Linked DNA regions of Homo sapiens: all the other regions are linked to region 3. The links come from fine-mapping of genetic effects on gene expression. A gene starts in region 3. Each other region holds a variant in brackets. All regions are shown on one strand. Distances are from middle to middle.

What was found.
Region 1: its variant is fine-mapped to the expression of TMEM222 in whole blood (TOPMed, PIP above 0.99).
Region 2: its variant is fine-mapped to the expression of TMEM222 in lung (TOPMed, PIP above 0.99).
Region 4: its variant is fine-mapped to the expression of TMEM222 in spinal cord (GTEx, PIP 0.95).

Annotation. Positions count from the first base shown.
Region 1 is chr1:27,272,912-27,278,059 of GRCh38, reverse strand. The region is part of intron 3 of WDTC1 (WD and tetratricopeptide repeats 1); the gene reads right to left. Among named protein-coding and RNA genes, the nearest start is that of WDTC1, 41 kb to the right of the region's middle. The variant C/T (reference allele first, on the strand shown) is at 2,062.
Region 2 is chr1:27,193,491-27,198,638 of GRCh38, reverse strand. No RefSeq gene overlaps it. Among named protein-coding and RNA genes, the nearest start is that of WDTC1-DT, 38 kb to the left of the region's middle. The variant T/C (reference allele first, on the strand shown) is at 2,957.
Region 3 is chr1:27,319,399-27,324,546 of GRCh38, reverse strand. It overlaps TMEM222 (transmembrane protein 222), which reads right to left and starts at 2,384. Exons shown (of 6, transcript NM_032125.3): 1 at 2,156-2,384. The coding sequence starts at 2,349. It also overlaps the pseudogene ACTG1P20. RefSeq lists enhancers at 1,329-1,875, 2,027-2,376, 1,876-2,423, 2,424-2,970.
Region 4 is chr1:27,357,846-27,362,993 of GRCh38, reverse strand. It overlaps MAP3K6 (mitogen-activated protein kinase kinase kinase 6), which reads left to right. Exons shown (of 29, transcript NM_004672.5): 7 at 1-143; 8 at 241-353; 9 at 744-903; 10 at 1,127-1,289; 11 at 1,367-1,474; 12 at 1,599-1,648; 13 at 1,742-1,837; 14 at 1,986-2,073; 15 at 2,156-2,289; 16 at 2,626-2,753; 17 at 3,000-3,136; 18 at 3,472-3,577; 19 at 4,128-4,285; 20 at 4,383-4,575; 2 more. Among named protein-coding and RNA genes, the nearest start is that of MAP3K6, 6.5 kb to the left of the region's middle. RefSeq lists a silencer at 2,085-2,154 and enhancers at 2,245-2,374, 2,469-3,004, 3,005-3,540. The variant G/A (reference allele first, on the strand shown) is at 2,384.

The DNA.
Region 1 (5,148 bases), 46 kb after region 3:
ACCAGCCTGGCCAACATGGTGAAACCCCATCTCTACTAAAACACAAAAAAAATTAGCTGGGTGTCATCATGCATGCCTGTAATCCCAGCTACACAGGAGGCTGAGGCAGGAGAATCGCTTGAAACCAGGAAGTGGAGGTTGCGGTGAGCCAAGATCATGCCACTGCACTCCAGCCTGGGCAACAGAGTGAGACTCTGTCTCAAAAAATTTTTTTCAAATTAAAATAAAATAAAGCTCATATGGAAATACCAGAGACCCAGAATAGACAAAACAATCTTGAAAAATGAACAAAGTTGAAAGACTCATACTTCCCAATTTTATAACTTACTACAATGCTACAGCAATCAAAACAGTGTGGTACTGGCATAAGAATAGACATTTAGATCAATGGACTAGAGTTGAGAGTTCATAAATACATCCTTAAATTTACAGTCAATTGATTTCTGATAAGAGTATCAAGACAGGCTGGGAACAGGGGCTTGTACCTATAATCCCAGCTATTTGGGAGACTAAGACAGGAAGATCACTTGAGACTAAGAGTTTGAGACCAGCCTGTGCAACATAGCCAGACTCCGTCTCTTAAAAAAAAAAGAGTGTCAAGCAATTAAGTAGAAGGAAAGAATAGTCTTTTTAGCACATGGTGCCAGGACAAGTGGATGTCCACATGTAAAAGAATGAAGTTGGATCCTTACCTCACACCATACATAAAAATTAATTCAAATGGATCAAAGACCTACATATAAAATCTAAAACTACAAAACTCTTAGAAGAAAACACAGGTGTATATATTCATGACCTTGGATTAGGCAATGTTTTTTAAGACACAACACCAAAAGCACCAGCAACAAAAGAAAAAAAGTTTAGTTGGGCATGGTGGTGTGCGCCTGCAGTCCCAGCTACTCAAGAGGGTGAGATGGGAGGATTGCTTGAGCCTGGGAGGGTAAGGCTGCAGTAAGCCATGACTGTGCCACTGCACTCCAGTGAGGGTTACAGAGACAGATCCCATATCAATTAAAAAAAAAAAATAAAACATAAATTGAATTTCATTAAAATTAAAACTTTTATGCAAAGTCACCATTTAAAAATGAAAAGACAACACACAAAGGAAAAGAAACAAAATTTCAAATCATACATATCTTATAACTCAACAATAAAAAAGGACAACCCAATTAAAAAATGAGTGAAGCATCTCAACAGACATTTCTCCAAAGAAAATACACAAATATGACAACAAGCACATGAAAACATGCTCAACATCATTAGTCATTAGGGAAATGAAAATCAAAACCACAATGAGATACCACTTCACACCCACCAGGAGGGCTATAATAAAAAAAAAATTTTTTTTTCTTTTCTTTTTTTTTTTCGAGACGAAGTCTTGCTCTGTCACCCAGGCTGGAGTGCAGTGGCGCAATCTCGGCTCACTGCAATCTCCTCCTCCTGGGTTCAAGCAATTCTCCTGCCTCAGCCTCCCAAGTAGCTGGGACTACAGGTGTGTGCCACCACACCTGGCTAAGTTTTGTATTTTTAGTAGAGATGGGGTTTCACTGTGTTAGCCAGCATGGTCTCAATCTCCTGACCTTGTGATCTGCCTGCTTCGGCCTCCCAAAGTGTGGGATTATAGGCATAAGTCACCGCGCCTGGCCTATAATAAAAAATATTGATAATAAGAAGTGTTGGCAAGGATGCAGACAAATTGGAACCCTCACACATTTCTGGTGGGAATGTAAAATGGTGGTACCACTTTGGAAAACAGTTTGGCAGTTCCTCAAAAAAGTTAAACACTGAGTTACCATATGACCCAGCAATTCCACCCTTCGGTATATACCAAGAAAAGTGAAGAAAACATGTCCACACAAAAACTTGTACATGAAGGTTCATAGCAGCATTATTTATAATAGCCAAAAAATAGAAACAACCACATGTTCCACCAACTGATGAATGGATAGACAGAATGTGGTACATCCAAATGATGGAATGCTATTTGGCCGCAAAAAAGAGAAGTACAGATTCATACTATAACATAGATGAATCTTAAAAGCATTATGCTAAAAAGCCACA[C/T]ACTTTATAATTTCATTTACGTGAAATGTTCAGAATAGGAAAATCCATTGCAACAGAAAATAGATTAGTGGTTTCTGGGGTAGGGCCAGTATGGGAGAAGGAAGTGACTGCTAAGATGGGTAAGAGGTTCCTTTTTGGGGTGATGAAAACATCCTGGAATTAGATAGCAGGGATGGTTGCAAAACTTTGTGAGTATAGTTTGTGAATAGTCAAAACCACTCAATTAAATAAAATAACAAACAAGCAAACAGGCGACATTCTGGATTTGGCCCACTGGCCACAAATTGCTGATCTGGATTTAAAGGACAGTCCTCACGAAAGGAAATCTCTCACAAAGTCAGATCCCCGCTCCATCTTTTTCTTTATTTTTTTTTTTTTTTTGAGACAGAGTCTCACTCTGTCGCCCAGGTTAGAGTGCAGTGGTGCAATCTCGGCTCACTGCAACCTCCGCCTCCTGGGTTCAAGCAATTCTCCTGCCTCAGCCTCCCAAGTGCTGGGATTACAGGTGCCTGCCATCATGCTTGGCTAATTTTTCGTATTTTTAGTAGAGAAGGGGTTTCACCATGTTGGCCAGGCTGGCATCTTTTTCTTTAAACATGACTGTTTAATGAACTTGGTATCTAGTTTACTTCTCTAAAATGGTATTACCTTAAAAAGCTCTGACAAGTCTTTGTTAGAATAAGGTTACACTATGCCCATGGAACTGCTCTGGTCTACCAAAGCTATTCACAAAGGAAATCAATCTAGTTTCATATGACTTGTTTCCATAAATTCATAATTTGAATGTATGCTAAAATAATATAAGAAACAAAATGGAAAAAGCAAGCAGGCCAGATTGTAAAGGTGAGATAGATACATAATGTTTGCAATTGTTTAAGGATAATATGAAGAAAACTAATAAGGCAAGAGAATAAATCCACCAAGCCAGGAACTATCTATTAAGCCATTTTTAAAACAGACATATGGTTGAGGTGGAAAGGATATGAACTCTGCAGCCAGATAAGCCTGATATAAATCTTTTAAATCTTATTTCTACCACTTATCTGACCTTAGAAATGCTGAGTTTTACTCTGATTTGTAAAGTGAGATTCCTTTCTTCTTCTCTCTACCATGTGTCTAATACGGTGCCAAGAAATCCCACAAGTGAATGAAATAGCAGGAATCAAAGTGTGATCACAACTTCCAAGGTGATCTTGGGAGATCCCTGGTAATACATACAAAATGAAAGCAAGCAACTCCCCAAAAAAGTGAGGACTGCAGGCCATGGCTGGAATCCCAGGATATTTGGTTCTTGTCAGTTGTGACAATAAAACTCATGAGATGAGCTGGCACATGTAACTAAAGAGGGATGTGGAATGCTCAGCAAAAATGTCCAAGGAAAGTGGAAAACTGATTGGGTCTTATATACTAGAACGGCTTAAATTAATCCTCATTAATTTAAATTTAAATTGTTTAATCTCAACCTCCCTTCTGGCTCTCTTACTTGGTTGCTGCCACTACAACAGTTCTTTGTATTTTCTTTTACTTTTAAAAAATGTTTTATGGAGATGGGGTCTTGCTGTGTTGCCCAGGCTGGTCTCAAACTCCTGGCCTCAAATGATTCTCCTGACTGCCAAAGTATGGGGTTATAGGCATGAGCCACTGTGCCCCAGCCAGTTCTCTGTATTTTCTTTTCTTTTTTCTTTCCCTCTCTCTCTCTCTCTTTTTTAAAGACAGTGTCTCCTTCCATTGCCCAGGCTGGAGTAAGTGGTATGATCATGGCTCACTGCAGCCTCAACCTCCTAGGCTCAAGCAATCCTCCCATGTTAGACTCCCTAGTAGCTGGGAGTACAAGCACACACCACCACACCTGGTTAATTTTTGTATTTTTTTGTAGAGATGAGGTCCTGTTATGTTGCCCAGGCTGGTCACAATTCTGGGCTCAAGTGATCCTCCCACCTCAGCCTCCAAAGTGATAGGATTACAGGTGTGAGCCACTATGCTCAGCCCTTTGTATTTTCCTAATGAACAATTTAAACTTTCTATTTTGAAACAATTTCAAACATAAAAAGTTTGCAAGAATAGTATAAGAATGCCCATATATACATTTTACCTAATTGATAAATTAAATAATCTTTTTCCCTCTCCCTCCCTCTCCTTTCTCTCTCTCTACACACGCACACACACACACACACACACGTGTAAAGTACTTAGTACTTTTTTTCTGAACCATTTGAGAAATCAGTTGTAGACTTCAGGACCCCTTACACTTAAATACTTCAGTGTATAATTCTTAAGAACATTGGTCATTCTTTTATTTAACCAGCGCATATTTATCAAAATCAGAAAATTTAACACTGATACAATACTGTTGTCTAACGTATAGTCCATATTCAAATTTCACTAACTGTCCAATAATGTCCATTTTATTTTCCTCATTCAGAATCCAATCCAGGATCACACACTGCATTTGGTTTATGTTTTCTTAATGTCATTAAGAAAATTAGTCACTGGCCGGGCACGGTGGCTCACGCCTGTAATCCCAACACTTTGGGAGGCTGAGGCAGGCAGATCACGAGGTCAGGAGATCAAGACCATCCTGGCTAACATGGTGAAACCTCGTCTCTACTAAAAATACAAAAAATTAGCCGGGCGTGGTGGCGGGCGCCTGTAGTCCCAGCTACTTGGTAGGCTGAGGCAGGAGAATGGCGTGAACCTGGGAGGCAGAGGTTGCAGTGAGCCAAGATCGTGCCACTGCACTCCAGCCTGGCTGACAGAGCGAGACTCCATCTCAAAAAAAAAAAAAAAAAAAAGAAAAGAAAAAGAAAATTAGTCATTTTCTGTTTCTTTTAATCTGAGACAGTTCCTCAGCCCTTTTTTGTTTCCTATGACACTGAAATTTTTGAAGACTATATCAACTTTTGCCCTGTCCCAAGACTAGAATTAGTTATTTCTCCAAGGATCCCTGCTTCCTTTTAATAGAGAATGGCATTTAGAAACTAGTAACCCATAATTACTATGGTATTACTGCTTCTAAATTACCTTTGCGTGGACAGAGCTGGAAATAATAGATAAATACAAATTTCTATATATGTAGTTTATTTTTAT
Region 2 (5,148 bases), 130 kb after region 3:
ATAATACAAAAATTAGCTGGGCGTGGTGACATGCGCCCATAGTCCCAACTACTCGGGAGGCTGAGGCAGAAAAATCGCTTGAACCCAGGAGGCGGAGGTTGCAGTGAGCTGAGATCACGTCATTGTACTCCAGTCTGGGCAACAAGAGCAAAACTCCGTCTCAAAAAAAAGGAAAAAGAAAAAGAAAACCAGATCTAGACTAGTCCTACATTCTATGGTCAGGAAGACTGAGACCCAGAAATACATCAGTGACTTGAGTAAGATCACACCATGCAATGGGTGGGAATCTGTAGATGTGATTTGGTGAGCATTACAGGTTAAGTGCACCACACTTAGAAACAGACAGACCTGGGTCTCTGGTACTGGCTTAACCACAAAACTCTACAACTTGGATAACTTCTCTGGACCTCATATCTCTTCTGTAAAAGGAGGCGTTTACTTTGTATTTCTCTGCTGTAAAATCTCTTCTAATCCTTCACGTCCAGAGGTTCTAATTCGGTACTTTGTGTGCCCTCCTCTCACAGTGCCACCTTGTGGCTCACTATGAACCCTGCATCTTCTCTTCCTAAATTAAAATCTTTGTCATAGAGGATAGAAACCCTTGTAATAGCGGACCATTCCCTTACTGTGAGTGATCTGGCTAACAGATCCCACTCCGATCTACTTTCCATGTGTAAGATGTGGGCATCACTTCAGTGCTGACACAGCTAGAAGATGTCGCAGGGCTTTTCCTGACCACCTGTCACACTCTACATTCACAGAACCAGGACTTTGTGACAGTGCTTTGGGTGGAGCTGTATCTTAATTTTCATTTTAAAAGTCTCCTCCTGGCTGGGTGCGGTGGCTCACGCCTGTAATCCCAGCACTTCGGGAGGCCGAGGCGGGAGGATCACCTGAGGTCAGGAGTTCAAGACCAGCCTGGCCAACATGGTGAAACCCCGTCTCTACTAAAAATACAAAAATTAGCTGGGCGTGGTGGCAGGCACCTGTAATCCCAGCTACTTGGGAGGCTAAGGCAGGAAAATTGCTTGAACCTGGGAGGCGGAGGTTGCAGTGAGCTGAGATTGCACCACTGCATCCCAGCCTGGGCGACAAGAGTGAAACTCCGTCTCAAAAATAAAATAAAAGAAAATAAAAGTCTCCTCCTGCCCTGTGTCTGGTCTGTGGCATGACACTCACCTCCTTTGCCAGGCCCCAAGTTTGATTTATTTTTTCTCTTTCTCTGGACACAGCTCAGCTTATGACCAAGAGAGGAAACGGCAGGAGGAAGGCCATGAGCCTGTTAACATCAAGCTGGGGGAAGTGCCAGAAAGATTCCCAAGGTCCCTAACCTCAACAGCTCTGTGACCTTGGACAAGTTATTTAATTTTTCTTTCTTTCTTTCTTTCTTTCTTTTTTTTTTTTTTTTGAGATGGAGTCTCGCTCTGTCACCAGGCTGGAGTGCAGTGGCATGATCTCGGCTCACTGCAACCTCCACCTTCCGGGTTCAAGCAATTCTCCTGCCTCAGCCTCCCAAGTAGCTGGGACTACAGGCGCATGCCGCCACGCCCAGCTAATTTTTTGTATTTTATTAGAGACGGGGTTTCACCGTGTTGCCCACGCTGTTCTCCAACTCCTGAACTCAGGCAATCCGCCCGCCTCGGCCTCCCAAAGTGCTAGGATTACAAGCGTGAGCCACCACACCCGGCAAGTTATTTAATTTTTCTAAGCCTTAGGTTGCATCGTGGAGATAAAATTACTTGTCTCCCAGGTAGTTCTGAGAATTAGAAATACAGCTATGTGGGCCAGGTGTGGTGGCTCAAGCCTGTAATCCCAGAACTTTGGGAGGCTGAGGCAGGCGGATCACGAGGTCAGAAGTTCGAGACCAGCCTGGCTAATAGGGTGAAACCCCGTTTCTACTAAAAATACAAAAATTAGCCAGGCGTGGTGGTGTGTGCCTGTAGTCCCAGCTACTTGGGAGGCTGAGGCAGAAGAATCACTTGAACCTGGGAGGTGGAGGTTGCAGTGAGCCAAGATCACGCCACTGCACTCCAGCCTGGGTGACAGAGTGAGACTCCGTCTCAAAAAAAAAAAAAAGAAAAGAAAAAGAAAAAGAAATACAGCTATGCGTTACTTAACAACAAGGATACATTCTGAGAAATGCGTTATTAGGCGATTTCATCATGTAAACATCATAGAGTGTACTTACACAAACCTAGGTAGTATGGCCTCCTACACACCTAGGCTATATGGCACAGCCTATTGCTTCTAGGCTACAAACCTATACACCATGTTAGCGTACTGAACACCGTAGGCAATTGTAACATGATGGTAAGTATTTGTGTATCTAAACATACCCAATCATAAAAAAGGTACAATAAAAACATGGTGTTCCAATCTTATGGAACTACTGCTGTATATGTGGTCTGTAGTTGAGTAAAACATCATTATGCAGTACCTGACTGTAATATATGTAAAGTAATTAGTGCATAGTAGGTGATAAATAAATGGTAGTTGGTTATAATCACATACACCTTCTATTTACTCACCACTAATCTCTGAACTCTAGGGGATGCGGAAGAGCTAGAGAAGAGAACCTAGCTGGCTTCCACACTGGTTGCAGAGAGCAGGTCACTGGAGGCAGGATATAATGAAATGCAAATGGCAGGTCACAGCCTGTGAGTGCTGCAGGAGCACAGTGCCAGCAGAGAATAATCATTCTCACGTCTCCATAACACATCGCAGTGTTTACATTGTCCTTTAACATCTTTCTTTCTTTTTTTTTTTTTTTTTGAGATGGAGTTTCGCTCTTGTCGCCCAGGCTACAGTGCAATGGCACAGTCTCGGCTCACTGCAACCTCTGCCTCCCAGGTTCAAGCAATTCTCCTGCCTCAGCCTCCTGAGTAGCTGAAATTACAGGCATGTGCCACCACGCCCTACTAATTTTTGTGTTTTTAGTAGAGATAGGGTTTCGCCA[T/C]GTTGGCCAGGCTGGTCTCGACCTCCTGACCGCAGATGATCCGTTCGCCTTGGCCTCCCAAAGTGATGGGATTCTAGGCATGAGCCACTGCGCCCGGCCAATTGTCCTTTAACATTTATAATTTTACTTATAACAACTGTGAGGTAGATATTAACGTTATCATCTCCATTTTACAATGACATGCCCAAGGTTGTATCACTAAGAAGTGGCAGAGGTGGCTTGAGCTTGGGGCATCCTCACTCAGAGGCTGCCTTCTTTTTACTCCCCAGAGAGTTTTCTAGATAACAAGTCTAGAAAGATAGGTCTTGAAGGGTGAGAGGCATCGGAGAAGCAGAGAAGGCTATTTAAGCAGTGACACTATCAAGAAACGGAAAAGGGTGGAAATTGGACCAGTGACCACCAGCAGTCCTCCAGGTAGGGAGAATGCCCTGATTCTATACCCTAAGATACACTAAGGACCTCTAGCCCAGCCTGGTTGGACAGAAGTCAGGGAGGCTTTCCTGGAGAAAGCAACATCCGAGCTGAGGCCTGAATGATGAGCAGGAGTTGGCCTGAGCTCCCAGGCAAAATAACTATCAGGAGCACATTTGGGGAACTGGAAATAGTTCAAAGAGGCAGGAGCAGAGTATGGCTAAGAATGAGGCTGTGGTCAGATGGGGCAGGGCTTTGTAACCCACATTAAGATCTTGGACTTTATCTCAGGCCACTAAGGACTCAATGCTTTGTTTACCGAGAAAATTTGAGCTTTACACCAATCACTGATTGCAATATGGAGACTGACTGGCAGGGGCCAAACTGGAGGCAGGAGGCTGGTGAGAAAGTTGGTGCAGTAACCCAGTGAAAATAGGAGGGTTGCCTGGTAGGGGGGGTGTAGCAAATATTGGGAGATATGAGCAGATTTAGGAGATAATTAAGAGGCAGAATGGAGGCCAGGCACGGTGGCTCATGCCTGTAACCCCAGCACTTTGGGAGGCAGAGGTGGGAGGACTACTTGAGCCTAGGAGTTCGAGACCAGCCTGGGCAACAGAGTGAGACCCTGTCCCAAAAACTTTTAAAAAGAGGCAGAGTGGACTGGAGTTGGTGATTAATTGAACACTGGAAGTAATGGGGAGTCGGGGAGCAGAGGTGGGAAGAAAGAAGGAGGAGGTGAGGGTATCTTCCAGTTCCTGGCTGGAGCAGCTGGTTGGGTGGCTGTATCAATCCCTGGGCTGGGGAAGATGAGGGAGAAGTCCCTGAAGAGAGGACAAAGGAGCAAGGCTTTGAGGGGTAAGACGAATTTAGCAGCTGATGGAAGCGGGAGTGTCAAATGCTCTTAGTGAAAGCAAGCTGAATTTTCCCTTTGTATTCATTCAACACATATTTGTGACTGGGGGTGGGAGCTCACACCTGTAATCCCAGCACTTTGGGAAGCTGAGGTGGGTGGATCACTTGAGGCCATGAGTTCAAGATCAGCCTGGCCAACATGGTGAAACCTCTGCCCCTACTTAAAATACAAAAATTAGTGAGGCATGGTGGCAAAAGCATGTAATCCCAGCTACTCAGGAGGCTAAAGCAGGAGAATCGCTTGAACCTGGGAGGTGGAGGTTGCAGTGAGCCGAGATCGTGCCACTGCACTGCAACCTGGGTAACAGAGCAATACTCTGTCTCAAAAACAAAAAACAAAAAACAAACAAACAAAAAAACCCACATATTTGTTAGGGGCCTACTATATGTCAGGCACCATCCCAGGCACTGAGAATACAGCAGTGAACAAAACAGACCAGGTCCTGTCCTCCTGGAGTTTACATTCTAGTGGGTGGAGACAGACAATAAGCAAAGAAATGTCTATAAATATGTCAAGGCGTGGTAGGTGCTATGAAGACAAATTAGACTGATTATGAGGCTACACATGGAGGTTGTCATTTGGATAGGGTGATCAGAGAAGGCTTCTCTGATTTTTAGGCAGAGACCTGAATGAAGTGAGGAGGGACACATGCAGATATGGCGACGCACCCTTCTGGGCAAAAAGAAGGGCATGGCTTTGAGGTCAGAGATTCTCTCCATGCTGTGACCACTCCAGTCACGGCAGGGGTCAGAAATAGGCACTGAATACCCTGAAAGGAATAAGGATTTTACTATAAAACCATTTCCTTCTCCCCTGAAAGATGAAATTCCCCCAGAGCACTTTTAAACCCATGCAGTCTTCTGAAGAC
Region 3 (5,148 bases):
ACACAGATCTGAATAGAAATGGGCTATGAGCTGCTTTTGGCCCAGGTGACAAGGGATTGTGGTGCCTCCACCTCACGCTGCTACCATTCTCCGCAGAGGACCACGCCACAGATGGTGTTTTTGAGAATAAGAAAGGCTAAAGAGAGTTTAGGATCACAAGACAGGTTTTAAGAAAACCAATACATTTCCTGAGTATCCCTCCCAGTTATTTTCTTTTTTTTTGAAACGGAGTTTTGCTCTTGTTGTCCAGGCTGGAGTGCAAAAGCACGATCTTGGCTCACCGCAACCTCCACCTCCCGGGTTCAAGTGATTCTCCTGCCTCGGCCTCCTGAGTAGCTGGGATTACAGGCATGTGCCACCACCCCGGCTAATTTTGTATTTTTAGTAGAGATGGGGTTTCTCCATGTTGGTCAGGCTTGTCTTGAACTCCTGACCTCAGGTGATTCGCCCGCCTGGGCCTCCCAAAGTGCTGGGATTACAGGCCTGAGCCACCACGCCCGGCCCCTGTTATTTTCACACTAATATTTTATTTTCTTCACAGCACTCATCACTATCAGGTGCTCTTTTATTAGCTTACTTGTTTACTGTCTATCTCCTTCCACTATGACTTAAACTCTCAAAAGTCTAAAGACCATATCTCCTTTATTCATCACTGTATATTCGCATCACCTAGAACTATCTGGGAACACAGGGGTCACTTAGCACATGTGTTAGAAGAACACTGAATGAATTAATGTGCACATTTTCCTAAGATTTTATTTCACTATTTATTTTGAGACGGAGTTTCACTGTGTTGCCCATGCTGAAGTGCAGTGGTGCAATCTCGGCTCACTGCAAACTCCACTTCCCGGGTTGAGGCGATTCTCCTGCCTCAGCTTCCAGAGTAGCTGGGATTACAGGCACGTGCCACTATGCCCAGCTAATTTTTGTATTTTTAGTAGAGACGGGTTTCGCCACGATGGCCAGGTTGGTCTCGAACTACCTACCGATCCACCCTCCACTGCCTCCCAGAGTGCTGGGATTACAGGCATGAGCCACCGCGCCTGTCCCAATATTTTATTTTTAAAGAACAGATTTGGATGCTCTTATATGCATAAGTACTTGAAAACACAAAATAATTCAAGTATTTTAACATAATTCAAAAACTACGATCTTTTTAGAATCAGCAACACCTAAGGCCCCAAATGATCCCTTCTCCACATCACCACTGGCTGTTATTGATAGCGGAACAAGCTATCCCATCAGGTGAGAGTGGATAAGATGTAGTGCAAAGAGCAAGTTAGATCAGAAGACTGAGCTCTTCATGCCTTTGCTTATTGGGGTGCGAACCTGATCAAGACACTTAATGCTACAAGCAGCTCAGCTTCACCATCTGAGAAGATAACCTACCTTAGAAAATGGATGTTTAATTCTGATAAAATGGGTGTTTAAGAGCTTGGCAAACTATCCAGCACGGTGAGGAGGGGTTACGTTTATCAGCTGTCAAGGTTGAAGCAGGAGGGCAAACCACCTCTCCCCATATGAGAGCTCCTCCCAAAAGGCGCCAAGTAGTACCAGAGCACCTGCTTCTCCCCTGACAAAGGCTGATGTTACAGAAAGAACTTTGGTCTGGGAGGCAGACAACCTGGGATCTAAACCCAGTTTGCAACTGAGATGGCACGTGAGACAAAGGGTTGGACTCTCAGATCTCTGGGGGCCCTTCCAATGTTGACATCCCAGGATCTCGTGTGGTCCCAACCAAACTCCCACTCTTGCTCCCAGACCCAGCAGTATGTCTGGAATATGGTAAGCGACCAGTAAGCATTTGCTCAATGAGAGAATAAACCAGTGAATTAATAAAAATGTCTCCTCAGATCCGATAAGGGGCTCCCTCTTCTACACACTCACAGCTCGAGTCTCCCAGCCACTTGCCCTTTCCTGCTGGCCTACAACTCTCTCCCTGGCTACACCAGGTGTATTGAGAGCAGGGAGCGTGTCCCAGCCGTGTGCACAAACTGGCACTACATGGATGGCGGGGTTCTGGTGACTGGGCGAGGCGTGCGGGCCAGACCCGAGGAAAAGGCTTGCTGCGCGTTGGGGCCGGAGGCTAGCCCGGCCCGACTCCGGCTCTCCCTGGGCCCTCCTCGTCCCCAGGCGGATGCCGGAAGAGACTCACGTGAGCACCGGGATGGGCGTCCACACCACGCAGTAGGGGAAGCGACTCCGTTCCACATCCATGGCGACGCCGCCGGAGCCTTGATATTGCTTCATGTCCGTCTCGGCCGCCGTCGGCGCCTCCACTTCCGCCATCCTGGGCGGGGGTGGCGGCGGCGGCAACAAGAGCAGAGAACTCCCTTCCGCTTCCGCCATGCGGCGCGCGCCCCGCTCCGACTGGCCCCGGCTCTGGTGCCGCTCGTCCCCATGGCGTCACTTCCCGGAGATGGGGTCCGCCCCGCTTGGCCTTCCCCCGGGAATCCGAGCCGCGTTCCTCTGGGCCCGGCCAGCCCCGCCCCACTCCCTATGCGCCTGCCAGCCCCGAGTCTTTGCCGCTTATGCCCCGCGGCTGCAGAAGGGATGCTCTCAGGCAGTTCGCAGTCTAGCGCCGGAGACTTATAGAGAACTCTAATTCAGTACGCTGAGGGCTCCTAGGAGGTGTGGTACAGTCGCTATTTATTGAGCACTTCTTAGGTGCCAAGCACTTGACATGAATTGTTTCTAATCCCCATAAACTAATTAGACATCCAAATTAGGTATTCCCTCCTGTTACAGGTGAGAAACTGAGGTTCAAAAGGTGAGAGACCACGATGCAAACCCAAGTCTTTTTTTTTTTTTTTTTTTCTGAGGCGGAATTTTTTCTCTTGTTGCCCAGGCTGGAGGGCAATGGCACAATCTCGGCTCACTGCAACCTCCACCTCCCAGGTTCAGGCGATCCTGCCTCGGCCTCCCGAGTAGCTGGGATAACAGGCGCGTGCCACCACGCCCGGCTAATTTTTGTATTTTTAGTAGAGGTGGCGTTTCACCATGTTAGCCAGGATGGTCTCAAACTCCTGACCCTGTGATCCGCCCGCCTTGGCCTCCCAAAGTGCTGGGATTACAGGCGTGAGCCACCGCGCCTGGCCCAAACCCAAGTCTTATACCTCCCTTGCCCTTTTCATTCTGTGGCCCTCTCACGAGGTAGTGGTAGCATAAAGGAAGACACACACAGTTGTGTGTGCGCACGTGTGTGTGTGTGTGTGTTTTATTGTATATACAGGGAAGACTTGCTGGAAGATAGGATATTATTGAGTTGAGTCTTGATGTTTGCCATGTGGCACAGGAGTGGAAGTATGAGTGCAGCGGTACAAAGAAAGGAAGGCCGTGCAGAGCAGTGTGTGCAAGAGTGTGAATACTTACTGGAGTAAATCATAAGCCTTAGATGTGATCCAATCCCTTCATTGTACAAATGGGAAAACGGGCTCAGGGAAGTTAATTGTTTGAGATCACACACAACCATAATTAGAGAGAAGCCAGGCTCAAATGTTGGAGACTTTTGGCTTTTTAAAGGATGTCAAGACAAAGAAAATGAAGTCTACTGGGGTCTACTGGGGTGGGGAGGGGAAGTTGGGGACAGCCCAAAGTCAGAAGGAAGGCTGCCACTAAAAATCAGCCTTAAAGAAAAAAAAAAAAGAATAAAAAGAGTAATCAGGTAAAGGAAGGTATGGACAAATGCACTCAGGAAGTTAGGAGCTTCCCATTTGGGGAAGGTCCTTCTTCCACTGAATTACCCTCCCTCAATGCTGATCTATGGAGAGCTTGCTGTCCTGTTTGTAGCACCTAATATTTTCATGTTTTTTTGTGGGGGATGTCTGTCTCTGCTATAGAACTCTAAGGTCCTTGACTTCAGTAGCTGGCACAGTTCCTGGTGCAAAGCATATGCCCACTAGATGTTTACTGATTTATTAGGTGATTGAATAAATGGATGTTTTATAAAGACCTCAGAGATTCGCAGGCATGATAATGATTACAGTGGGTTAGAAAATGATTCTAACCCACTCCAAATTCTTTGAGCACGTTTGTACCTCTCCTTGACCCCTGTGCAGTGTGTGATCCTTGAAGGGCAACAACCAGCATCCAGCACAGGGTTTGGAATAGATTAGGTGTGTAGTTTACAGTTGTTGAGAATAAATTACATGACTTCTTGATTCAATCACTGTAGTTATCTAATCTCTTCTGGACCACAGGCTGTGAGGAAGGTCTGTGCCTTAGACATCTCCCTACCATGACTGTCAGCCCATAATTCTAGCACAGGGTTGCTGGGTACCCTTTAAACATTTATTGTAGGTATTGATGAATAAACAACCAAAGTAAGTCTCTCAGGGCCTGCCACAAGTTTGGTAGTACTAATACACGTACCACATTTAATCTGCCAAACTTCAATGGCTTCCCGTTGCACTTCGTATGAAACACAAATATCTTACTATGGCTCACAAAGCCCTGCACCATCTGGACCCATGCCCCTTCCTTATTTACTATACTACAGCCATCCTGGCCTTTTCTTTCAGTTCCTCTCATGCACTCCTTCATATTCCAGGGACTTGGCACACACTGTTCCCCTCTGCCTGAAATACTACTCCTATCTACTTAAAGCGGCTAACTTTCATTCTTCCAGTCTCAGATCAAATATTACTTTCTCAGCCCATCCCTGGTCTCCCAATCTAAATGAGAAAGCCCCCATTAATCTCCTGTTCTTTTTCTTCATAGCTTCTTTGTAGCTATGTACTATTTGCCTCCCCCACTTGACTGGAAACTCTATTTGTCTTGCTAACGTGTGTATACCCAATGCCCAGTATAGTGCCTAGTGCATGGTATTTGTTTAATCAATATTTGTTAAATTGAATGAAAGGCAAATACTTACAGGCTTGGTATCACGTGCTGGTTACAGTCTAAACGCAGGAACCTGCTACCTCTTGGTGTCCCAAACCTTTTCAATGGGCTTGGGTTGGTGGGAACAGTGCTCAGGCAGAGGATCAGACCACAGAGCCCTGGCTCCTTTCCTAAGGTCCACGTCATCCTACCCTTGGCCTAGGCAGCTGCAGAAACGTGGCATGAGGAGGGCCGGGTACCTGGAGGTAGAAGCCAGATCCTCTGGTGCCTGTCCCACAGGCTTGCCCCGCACCACAACCCATCCAC
Region 4 (5,148 bases), 38 kb before region 3:
GCCCTGTCTGTGCTGCTGCCGCTGGTACAGCTTGAGGGCTCTGTGGCGCCCGATCTGTACTGCATGTGTGGCCGTATCTACAAGGACATGTTCTTCAGCTCGGGTTTCCAGGATGCTGGGCACCGGGAGCAGGCCTATCACTGGTAAAGAGCACAGTGAGTGGCCGGTGGGCTAAGCTGTGAGATGAGGGGTGGTGCTGTGGGCATCAGTCCAGCCCTGTGCCCCCTACCCCCACCCCAGGTATCGCAAGGCTTTTGACGTAGAGCCCAGCCTTCACTCAGGCATCAATGCAGCTGTGCTCCTCATTGCTGCCGGGCAGCACTTTGAGGATTCCAAAGAGCTCCGGCTAATAGGTGAGCACAGATCCTGGCTCTTGTCTCGTCACCCACAGGGGTTCCGAGGGGCCTGGGAAGAGGGCAGGGAGAGAGCACACTGGGCAAGAGCTAGGATGAGCTCATCCATTTTGGACTGTCCTGCCCATACCCACACCTGGGTCCTCATACCTGTTCTGGGCCCTCAGGAGCCCTCAAACCCACAAATGTTCCCAAACTCACATCTGCGTGTCCATTACATCCTGAATTCCACATATACCTGTGCCTGAGCTCCTGTTCCCACCCGAGATCTTGCCATACTCAATGCCATACTCATATCTATGTTCATGTCCACACTCGGGCCCACAGAAATGGTGGGCCTCACTCACCCCTGCACCCACACTCACTGGAGCCCATGCCTCTCTCCCCCAGGCATGAAGCTGGGCTGCCTGCTGGCCCGCAAAGGCTGCGTGGAGAAGATGCAGTATTACTGGGATGTGGGTTTCTACCTGGGAGCCCAGATCCTCGCCAATGACCCCACCCAGGTGGTGCTGGCTGCAGAGCAGCTGTATAAGCTCAATGCCCCCATATGGTAGGTGGCCCCCTCTGCATTCTTGGCCTGACCTGGGCTGTCAGCTCCTGCACCTATGTCCATTGGCATGCTAGACTGAACCCTGAGCCAATGACCTGGCTGCTTTTAGACCAGTGCCCGTGGCACCCCATGCCAACGTTCTAGCTATATCCAGGCCAGTTTCCTCTCCCTGGCAGTGCTGGTTGGTGCCTGGGCTGAACTGAGGATGTGGCTTTGCATGCAGGTACCTGGTGTCCGTGATGGAGACCTTCCTGCTCTACCAGCACTTCAGGCCCACGCCAGAGCCCCCTGGAGGGCCACCACGCCGTGCCCACTTCTGGCTCCACTTCTTGCTACAGTCCTGCCAACCATTCAAGACAGCCTGTGCCCAGGGCGACCAGTGCTTGGTGAGGCCTGTAGGGGTGGTGGACCCGGGAAAGGGGTAAGCCCCTTCTGACTGACCCCACTCCCCAACTGCCTGCAGGTGCTGGTCCTGGAGATGAACAAGGTGCTGCTGCCTGCAAAGCTCGAGGTTCGGGGTACTGACCCAGTAAGCACAGTGACCCTGAGCCTGCTGGAGCCTGAGACCCAGGTGAAGTCGCTGCTGAGGCCCCTCACTCACCTTTGCTAGGACCTTTTCTGTGGAGCCTTTCTCCCATCCTCAGACCCCTCTCCTGTCACCAGCACTCCCCATCACACCCCATTTCTTCTTGCAGGACATTCCCTCCAGCTGGACCTTCCCAGTCGCCTCCATATGCGGAGTCAGGTGATAGGCGGGACCTGGGGTGACTGGAAAGACGGGAGGTGAGGGTCGCTGCCACCCAGCCTGACGCTTACTGGGTTCTTCATCCCTTCCCAGCGCCTCAAAGCGCGACGAGCGCTGCTGCTTCCTCTATGCACTCCCCCCGGCTCAGGACGTCCAGCTGTGCTTCCCCAGCGTAGGGCACTGCCAGTGGTGCGCAGCCTTTCATGGTCGGGGTACTCTGAGGGCCAGGATGCCCGGGGGGGAGTGGGGGAAAGAAAGGGACGACGTCCGTTGGATGCTCCGGCTTAGGTGGGGACCAAGATGCCCCTCCCGCGGGTCTGACCTCCCCCACCTTCAGGTTCTGCGGCCTGATCCAGGCCTGGGTGACGAACCCGGATTCCACGGCGCCCGCGGAGGAGGCGGAGGGCGCGGGGGAGATGTTGGAGGTGAGGACGCGGGACTGGGAGCTCGCGGAGGGCGAGGGGCCGCGGGCCCTGCTGAACTCCCATCTCACCCCGCGCCCGGCAGTTTGATTATGAGTACACGGAGACGGGCGAGCGGCTGGTGCTGGGCAAGGGCACGTATGGGGTGGTGTACGCGGGCCGCGATCGCCACACGAGGGTGCGCATCGCCATCAAGGAGATCCCGGAGCGGGACAGCAGGTGCGGTGCGTGGCAGCGCGGGTGGGGCTGAGGGCTCGCGAGGGCCGAGTGAGCCGGGCCACGAGCGGAGCGGCTCCTGTGGGCGGGGCCTAGT[G/A]GGCGGGCTCGTAGGACCTGAGAGTTCGAGCCCTGTGGACTGGGCCCGTGGGCGGAACAGCCAGGACCGTGCGGGCGGGATTGAGGTCTGGAGGGTCCTGTGGGCAGGGTAGTAAGGGTGGGGAAGGTCGGAGAGGGCTTGTGGGCGGGGCGGGTCCTTGGGGCGGGGCCAGGCTGGCGTGGGATGGGCGGGGCTTCTCTGCCCACCTCGGTCCCTTTCCTCTCTCCCTTACCTCCCCTCAGGTTCTCTCAGCCCCTGCATGAAGAGATCGCTCTTCACAGACGCCTGCGCCACAAGAACATAGTGCGCTATCTGGGCTCAGCTAGCCAGGGCGGCTACCTTAAGATCTTCATGGAGGAAGTGCCTGGAGGTACCTGCCCTGTGTGGGATGGGAATGAAACCGAGGTGTGAAGCATGGGACCGAGGCAGGCAGGGGTAGAGAGCCCTAGGGGGAAATGCACCCTAGTGCGTGTGGGTGGTGTAGCCTAGAATTAGCTGAGGAGTGGCGCTGGGTGATGGAGTTGGGCTACAACATGGGTGTGTCTGGGCCTTGAGCAGAGAGATGTGGGCTGGAGCCAGTGGGTGGGAAGAATGAACTTGGACTGTCCCCACCCAGGCAGCCTGTCCTCCTTGCTGCGGTCGGTGTGGGGACCCCTGAAGGACAACGAGAGCACCATCAGTTTCTACACCCGCCAGATCCTGCAGGGACTTGGCTACTTGCACGACAACCACATCGTGCACAGGGACATAAAAGTAAGCCCTGGGGCTGGCCCGCCCTCATCTGCTGAGGGTGGCGGGGAAGGAAACATGGTCCCAGACGCAGGCTGGCAGTTTAGATTAAGTGAGCAGACCTGTTGCAAAGGGTAGGGAATTCATCAGGGAGGCTCCTTAGAGAAGGAGGGGAAAGGTTCAGCTCTGAAGCCAAACCAATTGTCAGCTCCCAGAGGGGCATATAAGTGGGATGGCAAGGGGAGAGTGTTGACAGAGGCAGGACCAGGCTGGGATCTCCAGGAGATGGGATCCCAGAAAGAGGGTCTACTTCTGCTGGCAGGGGCCCAGACCAGTGTCCACTAATGGCTGTCAATCAGGGGGACAATGTGCTGATCAACACCTTCAGTGGGCTGCTCAAGATTTCTGACTTCGGCACCTCCAAGCGGCTGGCAGGCATCACACCTTGCACTGAGACCTTCACAGGTAACAAGGTGTGGGGGTGGTGAGTGGGGATGCTGACCTGGGGCAGAAGATCTCTTGGAACTTTCCAGGGAAGGGGGTTTCTCCTAGGCATGGAGTTAGAGTCCTAATGGGGAATGAAACCCAGGGTGAGTGATTGGGCCAGGGCTGAGGTGGTGGCATCTGGAACTGGAGCTTGGAGAAGTGATGAAATTGACTTTAGCACTTGAGGAGTGTTGATGCAGGCCAAGGTGGGAGTTGGAGGAAAAAGCAGGTGATGGAGTTCAGGGGGACGAGGCAATCCAGGATGTGTGCTGGAGCACTACTGTGGGTGATGGAGTCTGTGAATGTGGTGGAGCCCAGGATGAATGACGGAAGCCTTGGCAGGCGATGGAGCCCAGGGTGGTGATGGAACTCAGGATAGATGTTTGATGACCAGGATAGGTGTTGAGGTATATTTTGGATGATAGGTTCAGTATGGGTGCAGTCGGCCTGAGGATGACGGCATTCCCCTCCCTGCTCCAACCCCATGATGAAGCCTAGATGGGCATTGGTGCTCCTGTTTCTGTCCTAGGAACTCTGCAGTATATGGCCCCAGAAATCATTGACCAGGGCCCACGCGGGTATGGGAAAGCAGCTGACATCTGGTCACTGGGCTGCACTGTCATTGAGATGGCCACAGGTCGCCCCCCCTTCCACGAGCTCGGGAGCCCACAGGCTGCCATGTTTCAGGTGAGACCTCTTTGGGCCTGGCCCATGGAAGTGGCATAGGGCCAGCCTGGGCCTTGGACACCTCTGAATGTCACCCTTGTTCACCCTCCCCCCACAGGTGGGTATGTACAAGGTCCATCCGCCAATGCCCAGCTCTCTGTCGGCCGAGGCCCAAGCCTTTCTCCTCCGAACTTTTGAGCCAGACCCCCGCCTCCGAGCCAGCGCCCAGACACTGCTGGGGGACCCCTTCCTGCAGCCTGGGAAAAGGAGCCGCAGCCCCAGCTCCCCACGACATGCTCCACGGCCCTCAGGTGCTTGCGGGTGGCGGGATGGGCACAGTGGAGGGCAGAGGAGTTGTGGAGCTGTGAGGGTGGAGGAGAGCCCAGCTGATGGCTCTGTCCCTCCCTCAGATGCCCCTTCTGCCAGTCCCACTCCTTCAGCCAACTCAACCACCCAGTCTCAGACATTCCCGTGCCCTCAGGCACCCTCTCAGCACCCACCCAGCCCCCCGAAGCGCTGCCTCAGTTATGGGGGCACCAGCCAGCTCCGGTGAGACCAAGGCTCCTGGGATGGGTTCCTTTTGCCTGGTTTTGCCTTTTTCTCCTCTCCTACAAAAGCCCTCCCTGGGGACCTGGGCACCTTGACCACTTGTGAATGTGGCATTTGGTGCCTCCCCATGCCCTGTTCTGGCAACTCTAACTTGGACTTGTTGTGTCCTCTCAGTGCGGGGTTTATCTATGTTCATGCCTGTGAGGTAGGCATAAAAGTAGGAGAGCCAGGATTCAAACCCGGCAACAGAGGTGACTGGCCGGTTGCTGCCCGTCCTCAATCAGCAGCTCGCCCTTGTGCCCAGGGTGCCCGAGGAGCCTGCGGCCGAGGAGCCT